Homo sapiens: one gene and its partner. Each later gene encodes a partner of the first gene's protein in a complex. Each region holds a gene or a part of one and is shown on either strand. Other genes may lie near its edges. The genes, in order: CACYBP and SIAH1.

Region 1 (15,009 bases):
GGCAGTATGGGGCAAGGTGAGGCATTTGAAAGTGAGAAAGAAGGGCAATGTACAGGTCTTTTAAACAATGATCAATACTAGGGATCTTTTGGTACTCTACCTATGGGACTAGCGGATGCAGAAGGGTGCAGTAAGACAGCGAATCCAACTATATTTGAGTATCACCTGTAAGCTGTTAAGTAATTATGTATTATAAAAACAGATGGCAGAATGTCATGTCTATATACCTAACGCATTAAACTTCATTTATTCACATTAGGCAGAAAACAGGGACTATCTGATTTAGTAAAAATTACAAAGAGTAGTTTTTAAAAGACAGTTTCCTTATTTTTATAGCTGCTTCTAACTCCAAGGAGGCTAAGTGCTTAAGACCTCCTTTTATGTATACGAGTATTATGCACAATGCTAACACTAGCATTAATTTAAGCACTTTACATAATGGTATTGCACTTCAGTGTATCATTTCAACTTTGTGAAATAAATTATTACTATCGCATAAATGCAGAAACTGAGGCACAGAGTGATTAAGCTGCCAAAGGTCACAAACAATAAGCTGTAAACCTGGCATAAAACTCAAGTCTCACTCTTAACTACCTTCAAACGTTTACTTCCTCCCTGATTTTAATGGAATATTCTTACAATAGCCTATTCTACAAAAGGAGTTGGCAAATGTTCTCTGTCGAGGGCCGCATAGTAAATATTTTAGGTTTCATTTAGGGCCATATGGTCTGCTGTAGCCACTTAACTCTGCCATTGTAGCACAAAAGCATCCACAAACAACACATGAACAAATAAGCCTGGCTATGTCCCAATAAAACATTCACAAAACAGGCGGTGGTCCCTGTTACAGAGGACAAATTCATTCCAGTTCATCTCAGTTCTAAATCAGCCAGGTTCAATTTGGTAAGGTTTCACAATATTACAATCAAAAAAAGCACACTCACTTTTTTTGAACTGCCTTCCACAGAGATGGGTTTCAAGAGATTGTTCACAATCATGGAGTAACTCTTCCCATTTAGATTCTTTACCAAAAGATCAAATGACCTGCAACACAATGGTGAATACATCATCTTTCTAGTTCTATGAAAGGTACCCTTACTCCATAGTTCTTGTGGGAAAAAAGCTGCTGGCTTTATTTCAGGGTGTGCATTTGGCCAGTTAACGCTCACCTCTTCAAAGTAGTTGTAAAGGATAATTAATTCTAAATTTAAGAATTTTAAAAACTGCAAAGAAGAGAGTCTCAAGATAAGGCAATGTTGACTGTTAATTCACTGTCTTTCCCATTATAATGAGAACTCACCTCTCTGTGAAATGCACCTGCACATTCTCAGTGGGAACTTGATGAACTCCAGTTAAGGTAATGTAGATTTTCACAAACTTATCTGACTGATCCCATCCTGGCAACGACAACAAAAGATGGGACGTAAGTAAGCCTCTGAAACTATCTTTAGAACAGCAAATGCACATGGCTCATAAGTCAGGAAAGTAAAATTATGAAAATCCAGTCATATAAACATGAAAAAATTTGAAATATAAGAAATTTTCTAGGTTGAGAAATGGAGCCTCAAAGCAGTTAAGTACTCTACCCAAAGCTAGGCATCTAACAAGTGGTAGAATTCAGATTCAAATCCAGGTTTCTGAATACAAAACCTATGCTCTTTTTATCCCTCAGAATAAAAATATGATCACTAAATACATTCTTTAAGATTAGTTCATTTACAGCTTTTATGGAAACAATTTTGTCCGACATCTAAATATTGGTAGTTCTCCACTAAGCTGGATGGCTAAGTATCAATACTAATTCCATAACCATTTCTACTTCTGTAAGTAGTCAAACAAATGGAATCCTAGCTCTCTTAATTCCTTTCCAGGGCAAAGTAGAATGTAAAAGACTCCAATTCTTCATCCAAATCTGACAAACCTACTGGTATCTGTTAAATGCCATTTCAGTATGTATTATCAAACTACCAGCACGTCTCTGACCTAGAAGAACTCTGTCAACATAAAAGACATATATATAAATACTTCACAAAATACCATCACATTTGTAGAAAATAAAAAACTTCACAAAAAAGCATCTTCTGTTTATCAAGAATATATACATACATATCCCTGACTATTGCTCACTTAGTCCTATAGAATAGAAACATGCCCCATCCTCCATGACGTTTTTCACATTGCATGCCTATATCAAACATCTCATGTACCCCATAAATATATACACCTACTATGTACCCTCGAAAATTAAAAAGAAACAGTGTTGATGAAAAAATGCCCTAGTGGGGTCCAGAGAACTTCATTTATTAATAGTTTCTTCCCATTCAGTCAGTCCATCCTCCGGATTGACAAGTTTCTCCCTCAACACAAATCTATGTTCCTGGTTAAAATACCATAATCCTCAACACCTTCAGACCAGTTTCCTATACTCAACTGAGTACACGGTGCAATTTCCTATATTACTATATAGTACATCTCTTAAGCACGACATACACATGCTTTTCACTATTAACAATATTCAAAATAGATCATGCCTTCCAACTCTCTATTCACATTCTCTGCTCATGCTGTTCCCCTCCTTTTTGACTTGCTGAATGTACGACTCACCCTTCACACTCAAATCTCTCTAATTCTCCCTGTTCCTCACCTCCAGAATTATTTCTTCAGCTATGTTACCTATTATGTGCTAGACATTATTAGCACAAAGAAAAACAAGACTGTCCTTGCTCCAATGAGAGCTCATCATTCATATTCAAGTTGCGCTGCCGCCAAAACAAAAAACTGTATACACCATTGAAGGAAAACAGTATTACTACATTGTTATACTACGAGTTATACGTCAATGTCCCAACCACAACATGAGCAAGGACTGGGTCTTAGTCACTGTTGTGTATCCGTAAGTCAAAGCACAATAGTGATACACATTAGGTGCTCAAAAATATTTCCTGAATTTAACTGGATTCCTCTCCTCAGTTAATTGTGGTGGTTGGCAGAGTGAAACATAAAACATGATTAAAAACCACCACCACCACCACCACCACCAAAGCTGTGTCTTATACTGAACAATTTCAGAATAAGTTCCTTCCTTGTTGTTACATTTTGTAGTGAATCACCTTACTCTTGTTAACAGCTTCTAGAACGCATCCTTTCCTATTTATATCTTAAAAAAGTTTTATTAAATAAAAACTGATGGGTCTTGCTCCAAACCACCAAAAACACAGACTCAAAACTCATTGGGGATGAATTTGTTAGACCACTATGAGGAATAGGTTGCTCGGAGGCAGAACTGGCTATAGGGAAGCAAGTCATACCATAATTACTGATTTTCACCGTATAGCCCGTTGTAATGGGAGCAACCACAGCAGCTGGTTTTTCATTATCAAGAAGTTCTGCTTTCTTCTGTGATTTCTGTTGCATCTTGTTCTTGATTTCTGTCTCAATCTTGGATTTTTCAGCTGTAAGGGCATCACGTACTCTTTTCCTAGTAGCCTTTTCCAGCAACACCTTTACCTCTTCTAGATCTTTCTGTAGCTGTGTTAAGACAAAAAATAAGTTAGCTATGATAAATAAGGAAATGGCTTGATATTGTGCGTATCACTCATTTCAACTTACTGAAATAAGCACTAAGAATTAAGAAGTTCATCTAAATTTTCTAGGATTGAGTTGCAACTTCAATTCTTCCATCTGGCTTATTAACTGTAATTAACTCAAGCTTCCTTTTTTTCAAAAGGAAAACTTTGAACAATCTTGAACAAACAATAAATAGGTCTTCAAACCTAAATTTTCCAGTTTATGTTTTAAAATATTTACAAGAAACGTCTGCGACCTAAAAAGTAAAACAAAGAACTTTTTTTTGACAAAGGATTCATAGATTTCCTTGTAACATCTAATCCGAGTGTCATTAGATGTTAGACACTTTTAAAATATTTAAGAGATGAGAGAACATGCAGTGACCATGGTAAAATGCTTTTATAGCAAACTTAACTGAGGTAATGAATGCTCCACTTTCTGTCACTGATTGGTCTTCATTATCTTCCCACCTCAAATACCTCACATAAAAAAAGTCTTAATTTTTAAGACAAAAGATAAAAAAAAAAATTTCTGCTTTTGAGGAAAAGTCTTGCTCTGAAGCTGGGTCAGTCTTACACTCAGAAGTGTAGGAGTTGGTTGCACAGAAGGTGACAAAAGACCGAAAATGCAACATACTCTTGGAAATTATCTTTTGAAAAAGCCACCACGTTCTCATTTTCTTCTCTTGCCAATCCATCATCTATTAAAGTCTACTACTTTCTACTTTCTAGAGATAGAGGCAACATTTTATGAAATTCAAGAGTTAAAGACAATGTTAGAAAATTATTGAGCCTAAGTTTTTTTTCCCCCAATTACCCTCTGACATACTGCAAATACACAAGATCTTTCCAAACAGCTGTTTCACTTTTCTTACAATAACTTTACACTCTGGCTTGACACTACCAACTTGACCAAAAAAATCTTGTGTCACAGCTTGATATCAAAAGCTCAATTTAAAAAAGTCTTTTAGTGCTTTATAACTCAGAATATCAGACGCACAACAGAGTTTGAAAGCCTGTTTCTTAATAGTCTTATAAAATGCAATAACAGAACTAATTCTTTTCTTTTACTACAAGTCTTTTGTTATCTCATTTAACTCAGATGCCCTAGTTTTGCCTATCTATAACAGATGACATGGTATAAAAAGTTCAACTCTGGCCAGGTGCAGTGGCTCACACCTGTAATCCCAGTACTTTGGGAGGCCAAAGCGGGTGGATCACTTGAGGTTAGGGGTTCGAGACCAACATGACCAACACGGCGAAAGCCCGTCTCTACTTAAAATTCAAAAATTTGCCGGGTGTGGTGGCACGTGCCTGTAATCCCAGCTACTCGGGAAGCTGAGGCAGAAGAATCGCTTGAACCCGGGAGGCAAAGGTTGCAGTGACCCGAGATCGCGCCATTGCACTCCAGCCCGGGCAACAAGAGCAAAACTCGGTCTCCCAAAAAAAAAAAAAAATCAACTCTGCCCAACCCTCTTGTCCACACTCTCGACCCTTCCAAGAACAGCTCATATTACTATGACAAAAAATCTTGCAAACTCATCTTTTGAGCATAGAACCAAAATGTTTCAGTTCAAAGTAATATTTTTATTGTAATGGTTTCAAAAAAACGCTGATTCTACAACTCCTAATTCATAATAAAAATATTGAAATGTAAAATGAAATATATTAAGTCTAAGCAAGAGGTTTTGCTTTTTGACTGAAATAGGAATACTTTATCTAGCAGAATGAGAAAGGTACTTCGAATTAGGCAAGGGATTCCCCCAATGGCTGAATTCCCAAGCCCTCTTTATTGCCAGTTTTGACTCTAAAGTACTCTTTTTATTATGAAGTATCCACTGAAAAAACTTAAAACTGAGACAGTTCCTCAGTTCTGTTATTGGCAGACTTGAAACCAACAAAGGTGATTCCTTTGATGCTTTTTCTGCACAAATACTTTAAGATGTCCTAGTTTCCTATCTAATTTATCATGTAATTTTCCTTGCCTTCTTGGCATGTGTTTGTTTTACGTATATAAAAATTTTATTTCTCTTTTATCCCTACCCATAAGGCATTCAAGCTTTATCTTCCTATTTCCTAATTTTTCACTAGGAGGCATTAACACCAATGTGCCTCAAAAATGGGCAAAGGAATTCAACACACATTTCTCCAAAGACACAGAAATGGACACCAAGAACATTAAAGATGCTCAACATCTTCATCATTGGGTAAACGCATATCAAATTCCCAAGATGCCACTTCACACCCAGTAGGATGGTATCATAAACCGAAAAAGAAAAATAAAACACCCCAGAAAATAACAAATGTTGATAATGATGTGGAGAAACTTTCAGAAGCTTCAAACATTTCTTACAGGAATATGATGCAACCACTCTGGAAACAGTCTAACAGTTTCTCAGAAAGTTACCATATGAACCAGTAATTCCACTCCTAGGTATATACCCCAGAGAACTGAAAACACATCCACACAAAAAACTTGGATACAGTACTCGCAGCAGCATTATTTATGCTAGTCACGAAGTGGAAATAAGGCCAGGCGCCATGGCTCACACCTGTAATCCCAGCACTTTCAGAGGCCGAGGCGGGCGGGCGGATCACTTGAGATCAGGAGTTCGAGACCAGCCTGGCCAACGTGGTGAAACCCCGTCGCTACTAAAAATACAAAAATTAGCCGGGCATGGTGGCGCGCGCCTGTAATCCCAGCTTCTCAGGAGGCTAAGGCAGGAGAATCCTTTGAACCCGGGAGACGGAGATTGCAGTGAGCCGAGATTGCGCCATTGCACTCCAGCCTGGGCGACAGAGCGAGACTCCGTCTCAAACAAAGAAGTGGAAATAAATGTCCATAAACGGATGAAAGGATAAACACAATGTGCCACATGCATATAATAGAATATTATTTAGCCATAAAGAGCATGTGTACTGATACACGCTACACCATGGATGAACTTGAAAATGTTAGTGCTAAGTTGAAGGAGCCAAAAAACAAAAGGCCACATACAGCGTGACTCCATTTATATGAAATGCCTACAATAGGCAAATTCACAGAAAGTACAAGATGAGTAGTTGTCAGGGGCTGAGGGAGGAATGGGAAGCAATTGTTTAAAACACACTACATGGTTTCTTTCTGGAGTGATGAAAATGTCCTGAAACTAGACAGTGGTGATGGCTGCACTACACTGTGAATATATTTAAACAAAAAACAAATACCTGAATTGTACACTTTAAAATGGTTAAAAACTTGAATTTTATCTCAAACAAAACAAAAATCAAGTGCCCTCAAATGTATATTTCTAAGTGCCTAAACTGAGAACGATCTCTACTTTCAAGAGGACTAACACTGAGCTATCCACCTGCAAGACTGTGAAGTTATCTCCTAGGGGCACATAGTACCCAAGACCTACCTTAAAAGACTTGTCACAAGATACCCAGATTAATACTGGAACACACAAACCTCATAGTTTTTCTTCATTTAAAGAAAAGATTTTGAGTTTAAAAAACAAAAACAAAACAAAACAAAAGCTTGGGACTCCCCAGTACTTGTTTTCATAAAGCAAATCTAGTTAATACACACCCAACACTTAACTGTGAATAACTGTCCCGTCTTCACCTCCCACTTACGCCAGGAAATGAGCAATACAAGTACTATCATTCCCATTTTCTAACTGAGCAAACTAAGTCTCCACAAAATTTAATTCTCCAACGTTCAGAGTTTACAGAGCTTTAACACAGGCCATTCGCTTTCTTACTATTAATTACAACTAACTTTCCAAGTTATTTATTTTAAAAATCACATACAGCAGATTGCTGTTTGCCAATCACTGACTTAAACACCTAGAAATCATATTTTTTAACAACCCTATGAAATGGATGCTACTGCGACACAGAGAAGCTAAACAACTTGCCCAGAGTAACACAGCTCCTCGTGTGTAGAGAAAACCTGACTAGGAGAATTCAAGTGCTAGCACTGAGAACTCACCTTCCAACCGCCCTCTACCAAGAACGACACTCATGTTTGCACCCAGCTTTGCTTGAATGAAGCTTCCTGTCCACTGGCTGGGAAACCAGGGCAGAAAGGGCCTGAGGAACACGCGCAAAGGGCCGCTCTCCCAGACCCACTCCCCGCACCGCCTGCACGGATAATCGCCGCACACCCCCGCTCGAGCCCAGCAGGCGAGTGGGGTGCGAGGTCGAGTGGAAGCGCTGGGGAGCCGACGGCGCAGCAAGGGGCGAGTGAGGTGTCCCCCGGGAAGGCGGCGCACTGACTGGCGCGGGACCGGGTGGCCGCAGGGCGGCTCAGCCCACGGAAACGGCGGTAGGGCGGGAGGCTGGCGCTGCAGCTCCAGCCGGGGGGCATAAGGAATATGGGGCCGGACCACTTACCTCTTCTGAAGCCATGGGGGCTGGGTCAGGCCGAAGTCCCGAGCTGCAGCCGCGCAGAAGGAGGAACAGGAAACCCCGCGCCGAGCCCTCAAACCGAGCGCAGACGCCTACCCGCACGAGTCGCGGCGCTGCAGCCTGCGCCCACACCGACCCTGCGCAAGATCGCGGCCCGCCTCCCGCACGCGACGGATCTCGAACCTTCGCGAGGCAGCCGCCGCCACCGCCCACCGCGAGCACGCACAGCCCGCCAAGCCTGGCTCCACCCACCCTTCCTCGCCTCGCCGAGCCTAGCCCCACCCCTCCCCGCCCCGCCGAGTCTGGCTCCGCCCGCCTGCCGAATCTCCTAGCAACGCTCAAGTCTCGCGAGCGAACCGGCAATCCGAGAAGAGTAATGTCTTGCTCTCCGCCCTGACAACTTTTATGTATTATAATTTGACCGCGCTGGGCCACGCTGCGCAGTCGCAGCTCGGAACCGCTGCGTTAACCCAGCCCCGGAAATAACGTACCGATCTTCGGAGTCCAAGTCGGAAGTTGACTAGAGAGTCACCTGCTTTCGTCCGCTCTAGGACACCAGACACACCAGGCCGCCATGTTGTGTAAGGTTAGTCTCTCAGCCTCCGCGAGAAGAAGGCGAAAAATGGGGAGGAGCAGCCTGGTTACTTTCAAACGAGAAAGAACGGATATGTTAAGCGTGGAGGGCTCCTAATGGTAGCGGTTTGATTTTCAGTGAGTTTGGCGCGGTGGAGACGTCACCGCGGTCTAACAGTTCCGACGTGGTGGCGTCATCACTGGCCGCCGTAGGAGGTGGAGCTACGTTGGCCTCGTGACCGGGCCCTGTAGCGGAAGCCCAGGTCAAGGCCCTAACAAAAGGGCCCGCCTATGGCCACAGTTTCAGGCCCTCCTTTCAGTCATGGACTGTTGAAGCACGATTTCCTGGTGCTTTCGCCCCTTTCACCGACCATTTCAAGAGTCCGTAGTTCTCGCCTGGGTTTGGATTCGGTATAAGTGAGCCTGTTTACCATCAAAGAAAATGGTGAAATGTCTTCTGGAGACGATGTTCTCTTCTGGTTCTAACCCTGTCACTCAGTGAGACCCCCAGAGAAGCCTAGTTTTCAGATTATTCTAGTCCTTGGCAGGCTCAAGATGTCAACAACACGGTTGGAAACAACCCCTGAGAGGTCACATAGCGCGCACTCAGCTTTACAGATCGTCCAAGGCAGCGACCCCTGAGAGGTCACATAGCGCGCACTCAGCTTTATAGATCGTCCAAGGCAGCAATTAGAATCAGCAACTCGGAGAGGAAAAAAAGCTGTTAGCGGAATGGAGGCTGACCATTATCTGTAGTAAAGAATCGGAAGTACAGTACAAAAATAAATTACCGAAACGCAACATGCGTGAATTTCACACAAAAAAATGAAGTTGAGGGAAAGAAGCCAGACATGGAAGAGTTCATATTGCGTGGTTCCATTTAAAAACTAGCCCATGGTGTTAATGAGCATAGTGGGGAGGACAATGACATGAAAGAGCCACCAGGGGGCTTTTGAGGTTCAGGTAATGTTTCTTGATTTGGACACTGATTATAGATAGGTGGGTTCACTTTAGAAATCTCATTGAGTTGTAAACGTATATTTATGTACGTAGTTTTTTCTGTAGATTATGCTTAAGGCCCGGCGAAGGGGAATTTGCCCAGGTAATGGAAATATTACACCGATACATAGAATTGTCAAAGTTCATGGGATGAACTCCTAAGAGCTGTGTATTTTATCGTATAAATTTTTTTAAGTGTCCAACCAATAGCCTGGAATTATTAAGTACATAATTAAATAAAAACAAATATCCCATGGACCTAATGCAGTGAACAGTTACCTCGTTCTCTTAATTGCTCAGGCTAAGGACTCATACCTGAGTCTTCTATCTCAGGCCTTACATCTTATATAACAAGCCTTACTGGCTTAATCTTCAAAATATGTAGCGAATTTAACGAGTTCTCACAACCTCTGCTTCTACCACCTGACGGGGTTTGGGACATGCTACCCAAAAATATGGCACCTAGACATATTGAATACTTTGAACTGAAGGAATTTGAGAAAGAACATATGCAGGAATGTCTCTAACTTTCTTGCACCTTTCTGCTCTGAAGCAGGACGTAATACCCTCATGTGAGAATTGCCCTGTCTATACCTGGAATAAAAGTAACATCTTTATCTCTGAAAACACAGGGACGTAGAGACGAATATGAACATCAGGCCTTGCTAAGTTTCCCCCAGTTTATTACCCTTAGATCACAGTCTTTTAGCCCCATCACATTTTCCCACAATTCTCCATTCTTCTTCAAACCTACTCTAAACAACACTAAGGTTAACTATTTATTCGGGTCTTCATTTCTTTATGAAGTTTCCATGTTATGTAAAACTAACATTAATATTTATGCTTTTCTCTTGTTAATTTGTCTTTTGTTACAGGATCCCCAGCCAGTGAGCCTAAAATGGGTAGAAGGAAAAGATATTTCTTACCCTACGCACCCAGGTCCAAGTCATCATTATTTTGTCTGAAATTTATCTTCCTAACTGATTTCTCTGCTTCCCCATTGTGCCTTAAGAGTTAGTTTTCCACAGAGCAGCTCGAGATATCTTTTCAGATCATTATATCCCTTTGCTTAAAAACCTCTAACAGCTTCCTATTAGGCTTAGAATAAAGTACAAACTCCTTAATGTGAACTTGAGTGTTTTACGTATCTTATCTCACCTTTATGAGCTTCATGTCAGAACCCATCTCTCACCACTCTTCCTTCCCCGCTCCCTGATTTAAACAGTCTGGCACTTTACTTATTCATTGAACCCACTGGGTTTGCTCTTGCCTCCAAGTCTGTACCCAGCTTTCTCTCTACCTGTAATCCTCTTCCTCTAGGTCATCACACAGATCGTTTCTTCACTCTATTTAGGTCTTTCAGAAGTAACACTAAGGGAGGCTTTTCCAGACAATATTATGCAAATATAAATGGACATGTGACAAATACTTTATTCGACTTATTAGTTACTGAGAGTGTATTTGAGTAGCCAGGTATTTATAGGCAATTTAACAATGTAATGTTAGTATAAGGTGGCAAGGTTAGATATAAACCTGTTAATGTCTCACAGGGTAATAAACTATAACTTTTGGTGTTATCTGTTCCACTGGAAAGGAAGTAGGGATTTGCATTCTTACTGGACAAAAATCTACAAGTTAATGTATAGATTCAGTATAGGACTTTTAAATCAATAGTGAACGATGAAATGAACAAAGTACAATCCCCTAGTCCTTGGTTTGACACTGAAAGGACATGCCACTCACCTTTTTGCCTTGTTTCCAAAGTTTGGAATAATTTTCCTTTCAAAATGAAATTATTTCTCATTCAGTTGTCCTATTGCAGGCAGCCTTTACTGCTTCCCCCAGTTAATGTACCTGTCAAGCTTACTCATGATTTCCTAACTGCCAAATTCAATGGATATTTTTAATTTTTTTTTTGCTATGACTCATACTGTTCCCTTCGGGCTTGTCAGCAGATAAATGACCTTCTGGGGACTGTGCAAAATATGGAATGCTTAATGAATTTGTGTGTTATTCTTGTGCAGGGGACACAACAGTCTTCTCTGTAGATTACAGTTTTAGTGTATGTGCTGTTGAAGTGAGCACTTCTGAGTAATTTTGATTGTTTTACTTTTTATGTAAAATTTCACATTGTTTAAAACACCAGATGGGGGCCAGGCATGGTGGCTCATGCCTGCAATCCCAGCACTTTGGGAGGCTGAGGCGAGTGGATTGCTTGGGCTCAGGAGTTTGAGACCAGCCTTGCCATGTGGCAAAACCTTGTCTCTATAAAAAATAGAAATATCAGCCAGGCATGGTGGTGTATGCCTGTAGTCCCAGCTACTTGGGAGGCTGAGGTGGGAGGCACTTGAGCCTGGGAGGTGGAGGTTGAAGTGAGCTGAGATCACGCCACTGCACTCCAGCCTGGGTGACAGAGCAAGACCATCTCAGAAAACAAACAAACAAAAAATACCACATGGCCAAATGAAAGATGTCTGTGGTCTGAATTTGGGCCAAAAGCTGTAATCTTACAGTCTTTGATTATTTTTTAATACATGCTGAATTCCAAGAGGAGCTGACAAATCTCTTGAGATTTCACTTGGGTTCCATGGATTCCCAGCACAAAATGCAAATGCAAATGAGATATGATTGGGATTCTCTGCACACTATCTCCACTTTCATAAGTGCCTCTGAAGTTTAGTTTGAATTTTATAGTATCTCCTACCTTGCTGTACCTTAAAGGACTAACAGCAGCTACCTGACCCAGGATTAGCCAGTCATATTTTTTCCAGAATTTGTAATTGGAACAATTGAGATGGTAGTCTTCTGCTGGTAGTTTGAAGAGAGGATATGTAAACTTGGTAGCTGTGTACTTAGAAGCAGAGAAAGCCTGTTTTCAGAGAGAAGAATGAAGCAGGTAAGTCATCTGGAAGGACAAGCAGAAGCACAATTTTGGGAACAGTTGCTTTCAGAGTCCTGATGGCATTCCAGCCCCTTGTCCTAGTGCCAGTTCAGGCCCAAGTGTTTGGCCTTTGGGACCTATGATACAGATATCCTATTTCCTTTTAATTAATTGCCTCTTAAAATTACTATTATTAAGCTAGCTTGCAAGGGTTTCTGTTACGTGGAATCAAGGAACCTCAGTAGAGAGGAAAATGAAGCACTTTGTGGTGGTGCTGCACAGGGTATCATTTTGCAGGGTATATACTGTGTGTTTTCTACGTTGACTGGAGTCTGGGGTCAGGTGTAAGAAGTGTTACATAAACATTGGGTTCAAATGAGTCAGAATAAAGTCAACTAAAAAAATAAAAAAGACATACATGGACTTCAGAACAAATGTTTATTACTGCTTAATGGGGCCAAAGGGGCAACACAAAGCATTGAAAACATCACTGGCTCACAAAAACAGTCACCTTGTTACCTTCTCAGTTGCATTTGTTTATTTCACAAGGCTTCATTCACACATAAAAACAAGATACTAATCCAATTCAAGTTCATAACGATTATAAAAGTAAACATTTGTTGGGACAATGTACAATAAATTGCACTTTTTAGACAAGCATTACATTTACATTTATAGAGTGTACTATACATAATACATGGAATTACGGAAACGTCTAATTGGTCATTGTTTATAGAGGAAGAGGCTGATCACTAACGTTTATTTTGTAGTTAATTAGTACTGTTCAGACTAATCAACTCCTTTATTCTAGAACCTGTTTTCATTAGAGATGCCATGGACAAAATAATGGAATTCATAAAAATAGACAATTCCAGAATCTCTACTACCTCCTCTGCAAGGGAAAGGTAGGAGTTAGAAAGAAAGGAAGTGGGGCTGACTGAGAAACTTTGTCCCTCATTTGAACTAAGGATCCATGCATTATGCAAAATACCAAAAATAGAGAAACTGATACAAAAGGCTTTTGGGACATCTTGGATCTGGGACCATCTCCAGCCTTATTCTTGTGCTTTCATGACACCAGAGTCTTTCGATGCATTTATATTCTCACAATTCAGTCCATATATTTTATCCCATATATAATATATAGTTATTAAAAGTTATACAGTTTAATGGAAAAGATTTTACATGTTAACTAATTGCCAATGAAAAAGGAAAATAACTTAAAATGTTCACTTTCTACTCAATGATTCTTTTTTCTTAAGCTTTTCAGAATACCACTAATGACAAACCAGAGATGGAGGTAGGAAGAATGGGATATATTAATGAAATGTTTTTATAGCAGGCAGCAAATTCAGGTGGAGATAAGCTTGACATATGTAGTCTTTTAGATGCAAACTGAGAAAGGAATGCCAGACAGCTGACTGCAGTCACTAAAATCTCCTATATGCCCACTTTTCTCATTACAACTCAAGATCAGCATCTCCTATTGAGGTGCAGCCAAGGTTGAAGTCCTCATTTTGGTCACTTTTGAAAGATAAAGAATTTGCTAAGGTAAAGGGCTTTGCCTGTATTAAATGGAAGCCATTATGAGAGAGGAAGAATGTGTTGGGACAGTTCTAGTTCAGTGTGACTATCAGCATGGCGACGAGAAAGAGTTTTATATCTGGTTGTAGGAAACAGGCTGCAGAGCTGTGGTCTGGCCTTCTGGCTTTCATCATCATTTCTTGAAATCTCAATGTGTATTTGGTTGTGTGGTACCCAGGTAAACAAAAGCAGCAGAGATACTCTATATAAAATTCTTCCAATTAAACACACATACAAACCTAATAGTGTTCAAATCATACAACAGAATTTCTTCACACTCATTTGTAATTGGAGAAAAGGAGTCAGTATTTTGGAGTGTTTTTAAGGGCAAGTTATATAATATAATCATCTTGCTAATCAAGTAAAAGTGTTCTTTCCCAGAAGATAAAACAAAACCAAGGCATTTAATTTTTTAAAAGTTTTTTCCCTTAAAGGGGCCCCCCTAATCAGGCAGGTACCTAAGTGTTTGATGCAAAGGTTGGTGGGAGAGTTAGTAGACAGATTTTAGTGAAAGTATGAAGACTTAAACCCCTACATCAGTTACACATGTGATTCTCCTGGGTGACTGGCTCACTCCTTTAAAGATGTAACTCTATCTCCTCTGCCCAAATCTGTATTGTTTTCCGTTGGTTTTCTCACTTCAGCTAGGAAATAAAGCAACTAGTTATTAACTGGAAAATATTTTAAGAAAATGGAGCAGGGGTTGGAGAAAAATAAATATTAATACATCATAGGAAAAAAATGAAACAAGATACATACTATTAAATATCCCCACATCCATACAAAGGTTGCTTTTCTACTTTACTCAGGACATTTCAGAAAGCCAATGAAGAAGTACTAATTTAACAGCTGGGAGAGGGGCAGAAGACACTGGTTGAATGGCATTCCTATTAGTGTTCCTGATAGGCACTCATAAATAAACAGAACATTAAGTAACAGAATTTCTTTGCATTAAATTATATGTAACTAAATAAAACCAAATTTTGACATGGTTCAGGATGTGGGAAGCTA
Region 2 (15,190 bases), on another chromosome or scaffold:
TCGCATCCCGCTGGGCGACCCCTCCGGCCGGAGCCGGGGGGGTCACGCGGCCCCGGAACAAAGCGCCGCGGGAGGAGCTGCCCTGAGCCGACGGGCAAGCGCTAGCTTCTCGCGGGCCAGAGCGCCACGTGCCAGGATCCGTTGAATGCGCGGTGCACGGGCGCAGCAACGGTAGCCGAGTAGCCCCCGCACCTACTGCCGCCTTTGGAGACCCGCACAGCTACGCCCGCGGAGGCCGCCGCCGGCCGCGCCAACGCCTGTGCGCCTGCGCGCCCGCGAAAGCCCCGCCCCCCCAGGCTCCCAGCGCGCGGGGCCGCGCCTCCTCATGGCCGCCGCCGCAGTGTGTGGTATTTAGCGGGGGCGCGCGGCGGGCTCGAGGACGCGCGAAACGGCGGCGGCGGCGGCGGCCAGGGGGGAGCCGGGGCGGCCGTTGCGGGGCGCGCTCTCGAGAGGCGGCGGCGGCCCAGGGTGTCCCGTCGGTCTCGGCGCCGGGAAGAGGCGGTGGCGCTGCCCGCGGTGGCGGGGGTTGGCGACGGAGCGCGTTGGTGCCAGGACCGGGGTCCGAGGCGCGCTCTCCGCCCACAGGTAAGTGGGGCCCGGCCTGAGGGAGGAGCCGGCGGCGAGGGGCTCTCCGACAGGCGGGCGCCCAGGCCCGGTAATGGCGGAGGGCGGGAAGGGCGGCCCGGCCGGGGCGCGGGCAGTAGTCGGCGCGGCGGCGCCTTTGTCTCGGCCGGAGTCGGGCCGCCCGGTCGAGCGCCGCCCCCCGCCCCTCCCCTGCCTTCAGCCTTCGCAAGCCGGCTCGCCCCCGCCCCTGGAGCCCCGGGCCCGGCGGGGTGGCGGCGGGGGTCGGCCCCGCGCGGCCGGGCCGAGGGCGGGGGAAGGGCCTCGGCGGCGGCCCGGCCCCCGCGCGCCCGGGAGGCGGGCCCGGCCGGGGGTGGCGCCCGGCGCGCCCCGCGCCCTCGTGCCGGCCTTTGTTGTGGAGGGTCCCGGGGTGTGCGGCCAACATGGCGGAGGTCAGCTGAGTGCGGGCAGCTGCCGGGGCCCTGCCCTCCCTCCCCCTCCTCCCCGCGGCGCCCGGAGGCCCGGGCCGCACCGCGCCGCTCGGCGGGCCTCGGCCTCCGCTCTCTGCCCCCGACCCCCGGCTGGAGCCGTCCGGGACGGGGCTGCGCTCTTCCTGCCGCTTCGGCCGGAGGCTTCATTGTGCAGTGGGAAGAATGCAGCCTCCTCCCTTGTTTATGTCGTTAGAGAGGAGAGCGCGTGAACGGCGTGCCGGGGAAGCTCTAGCTTATTATAAACCTGGCATTTCCTAGGGTTCATTTGCCGGGTAGTTTGGGGTCCTTTCTTAACTCTCCCAAATTTATAACTTAAAGTGAATAACCTGGGCCACTCCGATGCGTAGGTTCGTTTTCGCTGTCTGCCCGTTCCTGGAAAGATACATAATTTGTTTGCTCGGACATTCAGAAAAGTCCAGCTTGGGTGTTCGGAAAATCAGATTGTGTGTACTTCTTTTGCCAAAGTCATAGAGGCCATAAACAAACAGAGAGACATGGATACTGGATATGGGACGGTGTTCTGACTGTCCCTTCCTAGCAGTTGAGCATTTACCTTTGCTTATAGCGGCTGTCAAGGGTAAATTGTTAACTCTTCAGCAGTTGGATGTTGAGAGCACGGGCTGTGAAGTCCGACTGTCTGCTTTGGGTCAAATCCTGCTCCACTGGTTTGTGACCTTGGGCAGATACTTCTCTGTGCTTCGCTTTCCTTATCTGCAAAATGGGTGTAACGACAGTATCTACCTCAAGCCCTGTTGAGAATTGATGAGATGACAATAGGTGGACTGAAAGCAGTGGCAGCCCCATACTAAGTTCTCAACAAATGCTTACTGTTAAGACTGTAGTTTAATAGCTAAACTTACGAGGTTTTCTTGGCATGATGTGTTGGTATGATGAAAGTGCATAGACCAGAATTTGTGAAATCAGGTCACAGATCTTTAGTGCTGGGTTTTTTCTTTCAATGCATTTTGTTGTTAAAAAGGACAAGGAGATTTGTATGATAAATTAACAGACTTTCTGAGATGGTGGCATTTTGGAAATTGCTGTGGCCGGGGATTTGAATGGCTATATCTTTGTGATTAAAAAAAATCAAATTGATTAAAATGAGGTCTTCTCTTAGCTAGTTTAGATTTATTGATCAGTTCACTTTCAAGGACTTGAGTTAACCAACTTAGAAAAGTGGGACAGTGAATACTTGAGTGTGTATCTATGGTGTTACCATCACTTTTAGAAGTTACTGAAGAGCAGAATGTAGTGTGGTGGCAAATGTAATGGTCTGGTAATTTTATCTGGGAGTTGTTGGCTCAAATTATGGTGGAGAGGATTTTAATTAGTTGTTAGGAGGACTTTAGACTGGTAGATCTTGAGACTCAAAGTAGATTACACAAATTGGTTGTGTAGTGTTTCATTCTGAAAATTTAAATAAAGATACAGATTTCTGTAATCTTGGATGGTTAGTTGCGATTATATCCAGAATTTGTTCCCCAAAGTTTATGCCAAACAGTTTTTTTTTCGTTATTGGCATCTTTCCAACATAATTTACTAACATTTAATATTTTAAACTGAAATACGTATAATAGATGTGAAACTGATAACTTTTCAGGATAAGTATTCCACAAAGTACAAATTCAGAAACAATGTTAATGCATTTTACATCTGTTAAATATTAATCTATTCCCTCTAAGCTTCGGGAAGTTCTTACGAAATTGCTGTAGAGAAATATTCTTTCTTAATATCTGTAATTAAAAAGCATGATTAGGTTAAATTGGAGTTATGAAGGAATTATCTAGCTATGTCAGTAATGACATAAAATAACAAATAGGATTTTCAGTGAGTATGGTGTTTTGAAAACAGATCTTACATAACTAGGGTAACAAAGTTTAGTAATTTACAGAGTTTTAGGTGACTGCTTAAATTGTATTTTTAAGCAGTTGATTTACAAAATTTTTAAAGATTGGAGGTTCTTTGTTTAAAGAGATTTATTAACAGAATTTTGTGGAATTTCCATATTCGCTTTGTGAAATGTTAAAATCTAGATATTTTTTGTACAGCCCTCTCTTTCAACAAAATCTGTATGAAATCCCCAGAACCTTCCATCCCCCCGCCAAAAAAGGAAATTTTCCTTTTTACAATAAGTATCCTTAATAGTATTCTTCAAAATAGCAGGATGTCTAATGCACTTTAAATGATTTAGTTCCCATGGCTATAGTTACTAGAATATCTGCTGCATAAGGGCAAGAATTGTGTTTTTAATATATATCCTCAGTACCTAGTGCTCAGTAGGTATTTGTTTACTCACCTACTACTGTGCGTATTCTAATGACATTCAGATCTTTATTTTTATTTTTATTTTTTTTTGAGATAGTCTTGCTATGTTGCCCAGGCTGGAGTGCAGTGGTGATGTCATAGCTTATTGTGGCCTCCAACTGGGCTCAAAGGTTCCCCCCACCTTAGCCTCATAAGTGGCTGGGACTAGGAGCATGTGCCATCACACTGGGCTAATTTTTTAAAAAGTTATTTTGTAGAGACCAGGTCAGGTCTCGCCATCTTGCCTAGGCTGGTCACAAACTCCTGGGCTCAAGTAATCCGCCCACCTCGGACTCCCAAAGTGCTGAGATTACAGGTGTGAGCTGCTGTGCCTGGCCTCCAATCTTTTTGCCTGCTGAGATGTAGACCCATATATCCCCTTATGCAGATTTTTTTAATTGACTTTATTTTTTAGAGCAGCATTAGGTTCATAGCAACTTGAGTAGAAGAGACAAGAGATTTCGCGTGTAGCCCCTGCCCCTACACGTGTAACCTCCTCCATTATCAACATTCCCCGCCAAAGTGGTACGTTTGTTACAATTGAGGAACCTACATTGACACACCATTATTACCCAAAGATTATAGTGGCGTACATTTTATGGGTTTAGACAAATACATAATGACATACATGAATGCTTTCACCACCCTAGAAATCCTCTGACTTCCACCTATTTGTCCCCACACCCCCAACCACTTATCTTCTTTCTTTTATTGTCACCATAGTTTTGCCTTTTCCAGAATGTCATATGTGTAACTGGGCTTTTAAAATATGTAGCCTTTTCACATTGGCTTCTTTCACTTAGTAATATGCATTTAGGTTTCCTCCACGTCTTTATGGCTTGGTAATTCATTTCTTTAGGGCTGCATAATAATCTGTTGTCTAGATGTACCACAGTTGGTTTATCCATTCACCTACTGAAGGATGTCTTGGTTGGCTTCGAAGTCTTGGCAATTCTGAATAAAGCTGCTGTAAACGTCCATTTGCAGGTTTTTGTGTGGCCATGAGTTTGTAACTCCTTTGGGTAAATGCCAAGGAATGTGATTGCTGGATCAGATAGTAAGAGTTTAGTTGTTTTGCTGCTGTTTTTTTGAGACAGTCTCACTCTGTGCCCTGGGGTGGAGTACAGTGGCACAATCTCAGCTCACTGCAACTTCCACCTCCTGGGTTCAAGTGATTCTCGTGCCTCAGTCTCCTGAGTAGCTGGGATTACAGGCGCCTGCCATGACGCCCAGCTAATTTTTGGATTTTTAGTAGAGGCAGGGTTTCAACATGTCGGCCAGGCTGGTCTTGATCTCCTGACCTCAGGTGATCTGCCTGTCTTAGCCTCCCAAAGTGAAGAGTATCTTTAGTTTTGTAAGAAATTGCCAAACTGTCTTCCAGATTGGCTGTACCATTTTGCATTCCTACAAGCAATGAATGAGCGTTCCTGTTGCTCTGTATCCTCGGCCGGATTTGGAGCTACCACTGTTCTGGATTTTAGCCGTTCTTTTTTTTTTTTTTTTTGAGACGGAGTCTCACTCTGTCGCCCAGGCTGGAGTGCAATGGCGTGATCTCGGCTCATTGCAACCTCCACATCCCAGGTTCAAGTGATTTCTCCTGCCTCAGCCTCCTGAGTAGCTGGGATTAGAGGCATACACCACCACGCCCGGCTAATTTTTCTTTTTACTTTTAGTAGAGACGGGGTTTTGCCATGCTGGCCAGGTCAGTCTCGAACTCCTGACCTCAAGTGATTCGCCCACCTCGGCCTCCCAAAGTGGTGGGATTACAGGCGTGGGCCACTGCGCCTGGCCTGTAGTGGTATCTTACTGTTTTAAATTTGCATTTCCGTGATGACATGTGATGTGGAGCATCATTTCATATGCTAGTTGTTATCTGTATATCTCTTTGGTGGGGAGTTAGTTAAGGTCTTTTTGACTCTTTTTTTTAGGTTGGGTTGTTTTGTTATTGGTGAGTTTTTGTTTTTTTTTTGTTTGTTTTTTTGGAGACAGAGTCTTACTCTTGTCCAGACTGGAGTGCGGTGGCGCCAACTCAGCTAACTGCAACCTCCGCCTCCCAGGCTCAAGCAGTTGTTCTCGTGCTCAGCCTGCTGAGTAGCTCCTGAGTAGCTGAGATTAGAGGAACGAGCCCACCGTGCTCGGCTAATTTTTGTATATTTAGTAGAGACGGGGTTTCGCCATGTTGGCCAGCCTGGTGAACTCCTGGCCTCAAGTGATCTGCCTGCCTCAGCCTCCCAAAGTGCTGGGATTACAGGCGTGAGCCACCGTGTTCGGCCAGGTTTGCATATTTTGGATAACAGTTCTTTTTTAGATACGTCTTTTGCAGATATTTTTTCTGTTCTCTATCTCAAAGCTGGCATTGCCTCTCTTCTTCACATTTACATTCATTTCCTTCTACCTTTAAGAGATCTCCTTTTGGTCTCCAGCCTTACAGTCAGTTTTCCTACTGCAGTTTAAGTGAGCTTTCTAATAGGTGAACCTGACTTAAAAGGCTTTCAGTGTAAAGTTCTAAGTTCTTGATATGGTTCGTAAGTACATAGCCTCTCCTGAGCTGGCCTCTCTTGTTACTCCCCTGCCATTTTGGACTTTACTTGCAAGCCCCTCTCATCCTATTAAGCTCTCTTATCTCAGCCTGGACATCACTAGCTGAGAAGCTCTTTGTGAACTCTGCACATTGAATTGGATGTCATCTCTGTGTTCCCATAGCACTCTGCTCGGTCCCACTGTAACATATCCTCCTGAATTATAATTTTTCTTTAGTTGTATGCCTCCCCAGATAGACTGTAATCTCTATGACGACTTGGTCATCCTTGTGTCTCAAGAGTTTAGGACTCTTTCTGGAACATAGGTGGTGCTCAGTAAAAAGTTATTGAGCGACTGACTCCACACTGTCCTTATTAAACTCTTCTAGCCTTTTCGTTGTGTTTTGTTTTTACCAAGGCATAGTGTTTCTTACAAACTTCTCTAGCCTTATTGCCTGTGTTTCCCCTTTGCCCTACCTAGGCCAACTGGGTTCTTTTGTTCCTTGAACACTGCTTTAGCATCTCTGTGCCTTTGGTCATGATTGTATTTAGCCTCTGAAATGTCTATTTGTGCTACTTTGGGTAGATTACTGAACCTCTCTAAGCCTTAGTTCTATTAGTACATGAACAGTTATTAAGTATATTGCTGTTCCCTGCCTTCCCCTCGCCCCCCCAGCCCCCATGTCCTAATGCTAGAGTGTCAGTATAATTAAGTGGCTAAGAGGACAAGCCCTTAAGAGTCAGATCTGGATGTGTCTCTTGGCTCTATCACTTATTAGTTGTGTTTGTGACTTTAAGTTCCATGAGAGCAGAGACACTGCCTACTTTGCATCTAAAAGCACATTGCCTAACACAGCAAGTGTTGTAAAAAGATTAGTTGTTGAGTAAGTTACTTCTCTAAATATTACCACTTACCTTCTAGTGAGGAAAGAAAGAAACAGAATTACAAATTGTGAAGTGTACTGTAAAGGAGTCAAAGTGCTGAAGAGACCAGTGGGGTGGAAGGGAGACCTGGTGTCCAAGGATAAGGAGCTCGCCCTTTGAAGGGGGAAGGAGTACATCTTAGATGGAAGATGCAGCCAGATAAAGGCCCCATGAAGTAGGGATGAATTTGGACTGCTCTAGGACCTGAGGAGTGTTGCTGGAGCAAATGGGTAGTAGAGAGAGACAGGTTGAAGAACTGTGCAGAGGGAAAGAGAGGAGAGATGCTGTGAAGTGTTAGCTGATATTAGCATCTGGCTGTTGTTCAAGGAGATTCTAGGAGAATACCTAGAGCAATATTAGGACTTTTATTTTCTAAATGTAAACTATTTTGTTGACATTTAGCCTAAATACATATGGAAAAAGTGCTCAAATCATGTGTACAGCTTGACATTTTCACAAAAGGAACGCTATTGTAACCACCTCCCAGATCGAAGAAACAAGGAGCCGCCCCCTTCACAGGAAACCACCTCTTGACTTTTTACACCATAGATTTATTTTGCCTAATTTTGTGCCTTATATGAATGGAACAGTAGAGTTTGTACTCTTTCATTCTTTTGTTGTTGTTGTTGTTGTTTTGTGACAAAGTTTCACTCTTGTTGCCCAGGCTGGAGTGCAATGGCACAGTCTTGGCTCACGGCAACCTCCACCTCCCGGGTTCAAGCGATTCTCCTGCCTCAGCCTCTCGAGTAGCTGGGATTACAGGCATGCACCACCACACTTGGCTAATTTTTTGTGTTTTTAGTAGAGATGGGGTTTCTCCATGTTGGTCAGGCTGGTCTTGAACTCCCAACCTCAGGTGATCTGCCTGCCTTGGCCTCCCAAAGTGCTAGGATTACAGGCGTGAGCCACTGCGCCCGGCCTGTACTCTTTCATTTCTGTTTGGCTTCTTTCACTCAACATTATGTTTTTTTGTGTGATTAAGGAGTATTATTTGCTTATCCATGACAAAGTTACCAGCTGAATAGCCATGTGTCCCAGTACTTCTTATTTTATTTTATTATAATTTTTATTTTTATTAGAGACGAGATCTCACTATGTTGTCCAGGCTGGTCTCAAACTCAAAGGCTTTAGCAATCCTGCCGCCTCGGCCTCCCAGATTGTTGGGATTACAGGTGTGAGCTGCCACACCTGGCCCTTCTTTTGTTTTTTAAGTCTTATTCTTTTCCCTGACCATCTCAAATACTTTCTGACCAGTATTTCTAGAACGATTTTTTTTTTCCTTAAATCTTCAGGAGGCTCAGCGTGGCGGCTCACGCCTGTAATCCCAGCACTTTGGGGAGGCCGAGGCTGGTGGATCACTTGAGGTCAGGAGTTCAAGACTAGCCTGGCCAACATGGTGAAGCCCTGTCCTTGTCTCTACTAAAAATAAAAAAATTAGCTGGGCATGGTGTCATCCCCCTGTAATTCCAGCTACTCGGAGGCTGAGGCAGGAGAATCACTTAACCCGGGAGGTGTAGGTTGCAGTGAGCCGAGATGGTGCCACTGCACCCAGCCTGGGCAACAGAACAAGACTCTGTCTCAAAAAAAAAAAAAAAAAAAGTCTTCCAGAACTTTAGGTTTAATGTTACAGACAAGATATGACCAGAATAAAGCTGGCAGAAACCTTCCATTAGGTTTGTGGTTGCCCAGTCATGTTTGAACTGACTTGTTTTTTTTGTTTTGTTTTGTTTTTGGTTTTTTTTGCTTATTCGTTTTTGTTTTGAACAGGGAGTCCGGGCACATGGAATAAACTAGAAAGAGAAAAACCTTTGGAGAACTAATTATATTTATAAAACAGATCTTGCCAGTGAGAAATATTTTCTTAAGGAGTTTAATGCCAGTCTTGAATTTTGTAGAAAATATTTCAGCGTACTTGGTATAGTTATTTATTAGTGTCACATCGACCACCTTGGTCTAGTGATGGTTGATACAGTAAATATAAGTGTATACTAGCTTCTCTGCAAAGACTCTACCTTGGAAAGATTACTTCAATAATTTATTTGACAAAATGAAGTAATCCTCTCCCTGTTAAAAACTTCTTCCTGGTTTCCTTCCTTTGTATTTCACATTAAATTTTGCCCTTTTGAATTTGGCCAGAACTCAGGCTTGTTGGGTAAGGTAGCTTTACTTCTAAAAACTTGTCAAGGGCCCTGATTTAGCTTTATTAGAACAACTTCGGATATCTTGTCTATACAGACGTTAGTTAATTTTTGCAGACTGTATTCTTTTGAGTTTGTGAGGGGAGGGGGGCTATCATAAATTTTGTTAACTTTTAAAATGTTTAAGATATTTTCAGCCGGGTGTAGTGCCGGGCGCCAGTAATCCCAGCTACTTGGGAGGCTGAGACGGGAGAATTGCTTGAACCTGGGAGGTGGAGGTTGCAGTGAGCTGAGATTGCACCACTGCACTCCAGCCTGGGCGACAGAGCGAGACTCTGTCTCAAGAAAAAATAAATAAGATTTTTTTTTATAGTATAAAATAAAATGTCTACAAAATATGTAGTTTTTTGTGAATAGGCTGGTTTTAAGTTTCCTGTAAGTATCCATCTATTTGAGGAATTTTGAGAAAAAAAGTGAAAGCAAGGAGAAAATCAGCTCTTGAATTCTGTATTTGATGTTCTGTAGAAGTTACTAGCAATTCATTAACAGAAAATGTGGAGATATGATAAAATGTGCATTAAAATTTTTAAGTGTAATATTTTTTGTTGCCAATAATTTTATGAAACATTGGAGAGATACCGAAATCCCTCCTCACCCCCAAACTATTATTTATAATCTGATTACTAAAAAGTAACCATCATAGACATTTTGGTGTAGTCTGGGTGTGCTTCACATTTTTTTGTTTTACTCAGCCAAAGATATTTTAAAGTTAGTTTCTTTGATCTGACCTAAATTCTTGTAGTTCTCATGATTATCATCTCTAAGAACTATATATGTTTGAACTGTGTACTGTAATTTCAAACGATGGAATTTGTGCCGACAGTCTCTGTTTCTTGGAGTTCTTGATGCTTTGTGTGCCTGTAGTTCAGTGGTCCCATCTCTCTCTGGTTTCTAATTCCAGGCTTGCTCTCCCTTTGTCTGATCCTGCATCTTAAACCATTAAACTACATTCTGCAGTTTGGATGTCCTTCCAGTTTCTTTTCTGTTTCATTACATGCTACATACATGCATACATACATGAAAATATATACATCAATGTGCATATCTATTATACTTACCTATTTTTTTCTTTTAACCTAAATGAAATTGTAATCTGTATATTCTGTAGCTTTTTTTCTCCCCCCAATTTGTTTTTTGTTTTTTGTTTTTTTTTGAGACGGAGTCTCGCTCTGTCGCCCGGGCTGGAGTGCAGTTGGCCTGATCTCATCTCACTATACCCTCTAACTCCTGCGTTCAAGCAATTCTCTTGCCTCAGCCTCCCTAGTAGCTGGGATTACAGGTGCCCACCACCATGCCTGGATAATTTTTGTATTTTTAGTAGAAACAGTTTCACCATGTTGGCCAGGCTGGTCTCCAACTCCTGACCTCAAGTGATCCACCTGTCTCAGCCTCCCAAAGTTGCTGGGATTACAGGCGTGAGCTACTGCTCCTCGCCTCTCTCCCCCCACCCCGTTTAAACAGTTGATTCTTACATGTTAGTAAGTCTGATGTATGAGTCCATTTTATTTAAAGAAGGCAGCACACAGTATTCTGTTGTGTGGACCATAATTTAACCACTTTCTTAGGATAGGGCTGTTTTCAGTTTACTATTACAAACAGGCATCCATACACACTCACTCCTTTGCCAACATTAGAGGATAGACTTTTTAGAGTCTCACTGTGTCGCCCTAGCTGGAGTTCAGTGGCACCATCTTGGCTCACTGCAACCTCCGTGCCCGGGTTCAAGTAATTATCTTGCCGTAGCCACCACTTTGACCTCTTTTAGCTGATTATTTTTGCATTTATCTTTGTCTTTAAATAACACGCCTCTATTGTTTCTAGATTTCAGTTTTTGGCTTTCTTTGTTGATTTCCGTTTGTGACTTTAACTCTTCTTGCCCCCATCACATGTGCATACCCTTCTCATTCCTACATTCCTAATTTAGTTAGTAACACTGCAGTTTTTTATTTGCTTATCCTGACTGTCAAAGTTATTCAGTTTGAGCCATGTAATAAACTGATTACTTCTTTCTCTGCATTTTTTAGTTTTTATTTTTGTAGGTAATATCTTTTTTCTTCCTTCCTATTTTGGCTTTGTTTTCTTCTGTGCTTACTGCTAATGCTACCTCACATTCCTTGCCGCTTGTCTAAATGTTCCATCAGGTTGTTTGGATGCCTTCAGTTGCCCTCTTCTAGCATAAAGTTGTCATTATCTTCAGTAGTTTCTTTACCTTTCTCCTAGATGCAGTCTTCTGTTTATTGTAACCCCGTTCTTTTTCTTGGTTATTTCCCTTGTATTTGAAGAGCTTATCTTCCAGGAGCTTCCTAAGAACATATCCAGGGGAGGTAGTATTTTGAAACTGCATCATCATTCTGCCCTCAACACTTTCGAGATAGTTGGGTATAGAATTCTAGGGCATAATTTTCTTTGAGAATTTTAAAAGCATTGTTCTGTTGCTTTCTGACTTTGGATGTTGCTGCCTGAAAGTCCAAAGTTCTTGTTTTCTGATGTATTTATTCATCCAAAAAATATTTATTGGAGTCTGTACTATGTGCCAGGCACTGTATTAAGTTTTTGGGATACATAATTGAGCCAGACAAAAATCCTACCTTCCAATTGAGGACAGTGGGCGCCTATAACAACAAATAAAAAATAATAAGTGAATTATGTAGTCTGTTAGAAGATAATACATTCTTTGCTGGGAAAAGAGTAGGAGGCGTGAGATGGGCCAAAGATTTAGGAGTACACAGAGGGGCAGTGGGCAGGGTGCCGCTTACTATTTTAAATAGAGGGTCTGAGTGAGTGTCATTGAATGTAACAAGTAAAGATTTGAAAGTTAGGGAGTTAGCCACATGGATATTCAGGAGAAAAGTATTTTAAGACACAGGCCCAAAGGAGCAACCTAGCATTGCCATTGAACAAGGAAGTCAGTGCAGTGAGTAAAGGGGAACAAAGTAGGAGATGAAGTCAGAGAGTAATGGGAACACAGCACCATACTGTATCCTTATACATAATGGCCCCTTGTGGGCTATTTTTAGGATTTCAGCTTTTACTCTAACATGGGTAGCCAGCGGAGGGTGTAGAGCAGAGATTTATGTCATCTGATATAAAACGGAGCTGGATTAATTAATCTAATTGCTGTGCTCAGAACATATTAGGTGGTGAGGGTGGGAGACATAGCTGGGAACAATGAGACTGGTTGGGAGGATATTGTGGTAATCCAGATGAGAGATACTGGTGGCTTGGACTAGATGGTAGTGGTAGAGGTAGGGAGGAATGGTTGGATTCTGAATACATTTTGAAGGGAGGTATAATAAGATTTCCTGACTGTTTTAGATGTATGTTGTGAAAGAGAAGAATCAAGGCTGACTCGAAGGCGCTTGACCTGAGTCACTGGAAGGATGGAGTCTCTATTAATTGAAAAAAGGAAGACTCTGAGTGGAGAGACTTTGGGAGGTGATAAGGAGTTTCTCTTTGGCCATCCCCCTGAAGGGGCAATTGGATTTACAAATCTGGGGTTTCAGACAAATCTGGAGCATTGTGTTTATTTTTAAAATCTGGGCTGGAGATGAAAATTTTGAAATCCTTAGCATGTTGATGGAATTTAAAACTAGGAGACTGAATGAGATCACCAAAGTACCAGTGTACATAAGAAAAGAACATCTTAGGGTGTAAGGGTGGGAGACAAGGATGGAAACAGAGAGACTGGTTTGGAAGAGATTACAGTAATTTATAGGCAGCTACAATTTCAATAATTTGGGGGAGAAGAGCAGGAATAAAAGGAAGCTGAGGAGTGACTGAGATAGGAAAACCAAGAGTATGTGAAGTCGGTGAACAGAGTTTATTAGGCAGGAGCCCAGTGATCCGTCAACTCTGTTAGGTGTTGCTGACAGTTCAAAACTTGCAATTTAAATACAAACAAAACCACAGAACCATTGAAATTCAAATTACTGATTCACTAAAATATTGGATACTGTCAGGCTGAATTTTAGTCTTAAAACTGCACTTATGGGATTGACTTACGGTTATGAAATTGACTGTTACCGGGCAGGTTCTTTTTGAGTTAAGCATACCTTAATTGCCCTGTATCATGTGGTCGTATGAAATCTTAATTTTTTCACTGACATACAAGTGCTTTAGTGGAAACCATGATGGCATTTAGGCTTTGCTTCACACAAATGAATTATTTATGTTATTAGATCGACCTCAGCTTTTCTCTAGCTTGCGTAGAGAAAATAGGACCAACTTAGAGCCAGTGTGGCCATAAATATGAATAGAGGCATTTAATTACATGGCTAACAGGTGTATTCAGATGATTCAGAATGTGTTGATACTGTTTTTTAGACTATTAAAAACATGAAAGTAAAATATTAAATTTTTAGAGAAATGTGAACTCCTTGTGAACAGAATCTTAGTTTGAGGGAAATTAATATAGGTTAATTCTTCTGTTACATCCTTAGTTGAAATAACTAAAATGGTTTGCCTGGAGTTTCAGGTGGTACTGCTTATGTCAACATAGATTGTAACTATTTCAGCTGAATATAATTGAATTTTAATAAGGCTCCATGATTTTTTAAAAGATGGCATTTCTTTCCTATAAATTCCATTACTTTTTTCTATTTTACTAGTAAAGAGCCATCAATCAAAATATATCAGACTCACTAATGTGACTTTTTACCCTGTTTCTTTAATTTCTTTAGTCTTCCTAGCAATATGCTCTTTTATGCTTAGTTTAGTATCCCAAATATAGATTACTGCTAATTTTGATCTGCTGTAAAATTTTTTTCTCTGTGTGTGTGTGTGTGTATACATACTTACCTACCAGATTTGTCAGATGTAATGTGAAGTTGAATGAATTATATGGTAGAGTGTAGAACTAGGTACCATGAATTTTATAAGTAAGGTTTTAAAAAGCACAGCTTAAATGCCAAGATGGAGTAAAAGAGCAAGCTTGCACTGGAATGTGAGAATTTTGTATCCTGAGAGAATATAAAACATAAGGTAGTAAATGGCTGTATTCAGATAACTAGGTAAATAGTATTTGAATGTTTTTATATAGACACTGAGACTTGGTTATATTGCAGATTAGTTTGTAATCAAGACTGATGTTTCAATAATTTTAATTTCAAGTGTGTTGCTAAAAAGTTTTAAGGTTATTTAAAAATTTTAGTAATGTGTGGTATGAAATAAAAAGTTGAAAAAGCCTGTTTGGCCCTCTGCCTGGTTCTGTTGCTCTTCTCTGCTCTTTCCTCTCCATGATACATACTTTGCTTTGATTTCATATCTAATGACTTAATGGCAGACTTAGAATATGTGATTCTATCACTTTGATGGAAAGTAAAGGTTTAATTTAAAGACTTTAGGAAGTTTATTTTCTTGACACATTTTTGTAAATATGGAAAAGATGTTTTGAATGCCAAATTAAATATTCCATACCAGGGTAAGTAAGGAGAACATACATGATTTTTTTAGGGTTATTCAAAAGAAGATGAGATTAGAGACAACAAAACATCTGGCTGTGCTCGTATTTATTTCAAGGCACTGTATTGCCCAGGCTGGAGTGCAGTAGCTATTCACAGACACAATCATGGTGCAGTACAGCCTCTTGGGCTCACCTGATCCTCCCTCTTCAGCCTCTTGAGTAGCTGAGACTACAGGCATGTGCCAGCTTGCTCTTACTTTTTTTTTTTTTTTTTTTGAGATGGAATTTCACTCTTGTTGCCCAGACTGGAGTGCAATGGCACGATCTTGGCTCACTGCAACCTCCCCCTCCCGGGTTCAAGCGATTCTTATGCCTCAGCTTCCGTAGTAGCTGGGATTACAGGCACCTGCCACCACACCCAGCTAATTTTTGTATTTTTAGTAGAGACAACTTTTTACCACGTTGGCCAGGCTGATCTCAAACTCCTGACCTCAAGCGATCCCGCCAGCCTTGGCTTCCCAAAGTTGTTGGGATTACAGGTGTGAGTCACCATGCCTGTCCTTGAAATTTGTTTTTTTTTTTTTTGAGATGGAGTCTTGCTCTGTCGCCCAGGCTGGAGGGCAGTGTCGTGATCTGGGCTCACTTCGAGCTCCGCCTCCCGGATTCACGCCATTCTCCTGCCTCAGTCTCCCGAATAGCTGGGACTACAGGCGCCCGCCACCGCGCCTGGCTAATTTTTTGTATTTTTAGTAGAGACGGGGTTTCACTGTAGTCTCGATAACCTGACCTCAT

Evidence for each region.
Region 2: the proteins of CACYBP (region 1) and SIAH1 are in contact, whole or in part, in a crystal structure (PDB 2A25), measured with the Homo sapiens proteins. Residues at the interface, in NP_055227.1 of Homo sapiens: Lys59, Pro60, Ala61, Ala62, Val63, Val64, Ala65, Pro66, Ile67; in NP_003022.3 of Homo sapiens: Leu158, Gln159, Asp162, Ile163, Val164, Phe165, Leu166, Ala167, Thr168, Val176, Asp177, Trp178, Val179, Met180, Asn276.

Annotation. Positions count from the first base shown.
Region 1 is NC_000001.11:174,993,133-175,008,141, reverse strand, and holds the start of CACYBP (calcyclin-binding protein), read right to left. Parts: upstream 8,196-15,009; 5' UTR 7,962-8,195; coding exon 7,947-7,961; intron 3,529-7,946; coding exon 3,309-3,528; intron 1,398-3,308; coding exon 1,301-1,397; intron 1,045-1,300; coding exon 945-1,044; intron 1-944. UniProt on the Homo sapiens protein: May be involved in calcium-dependent ubiquitination and subsequent proteasomal degradation of target proteins. Probably serves as a molecular bridge in ubiquitin E3 complexes. Participates in the ubiquitin-mediated degradation of beta-catenin (CTNNB1).
Region 2 is NC_000016.10:48,370,599-48,385,788, reverse strand, and holds the start of SIAH1 (E3 ubiquitin-protein ligase SIAH1), read left to right. Parts: upstream 1-375; 5' UTR 376-585; intron 586-919; exon of another isoform or gene 920-1,013; intron 1,014-15,190. UniProt on the Homo sapiens protein: E3 ubiquitin-protein ligase that mediates ubiquitination and subsequent proteasomal degradation of target proteins.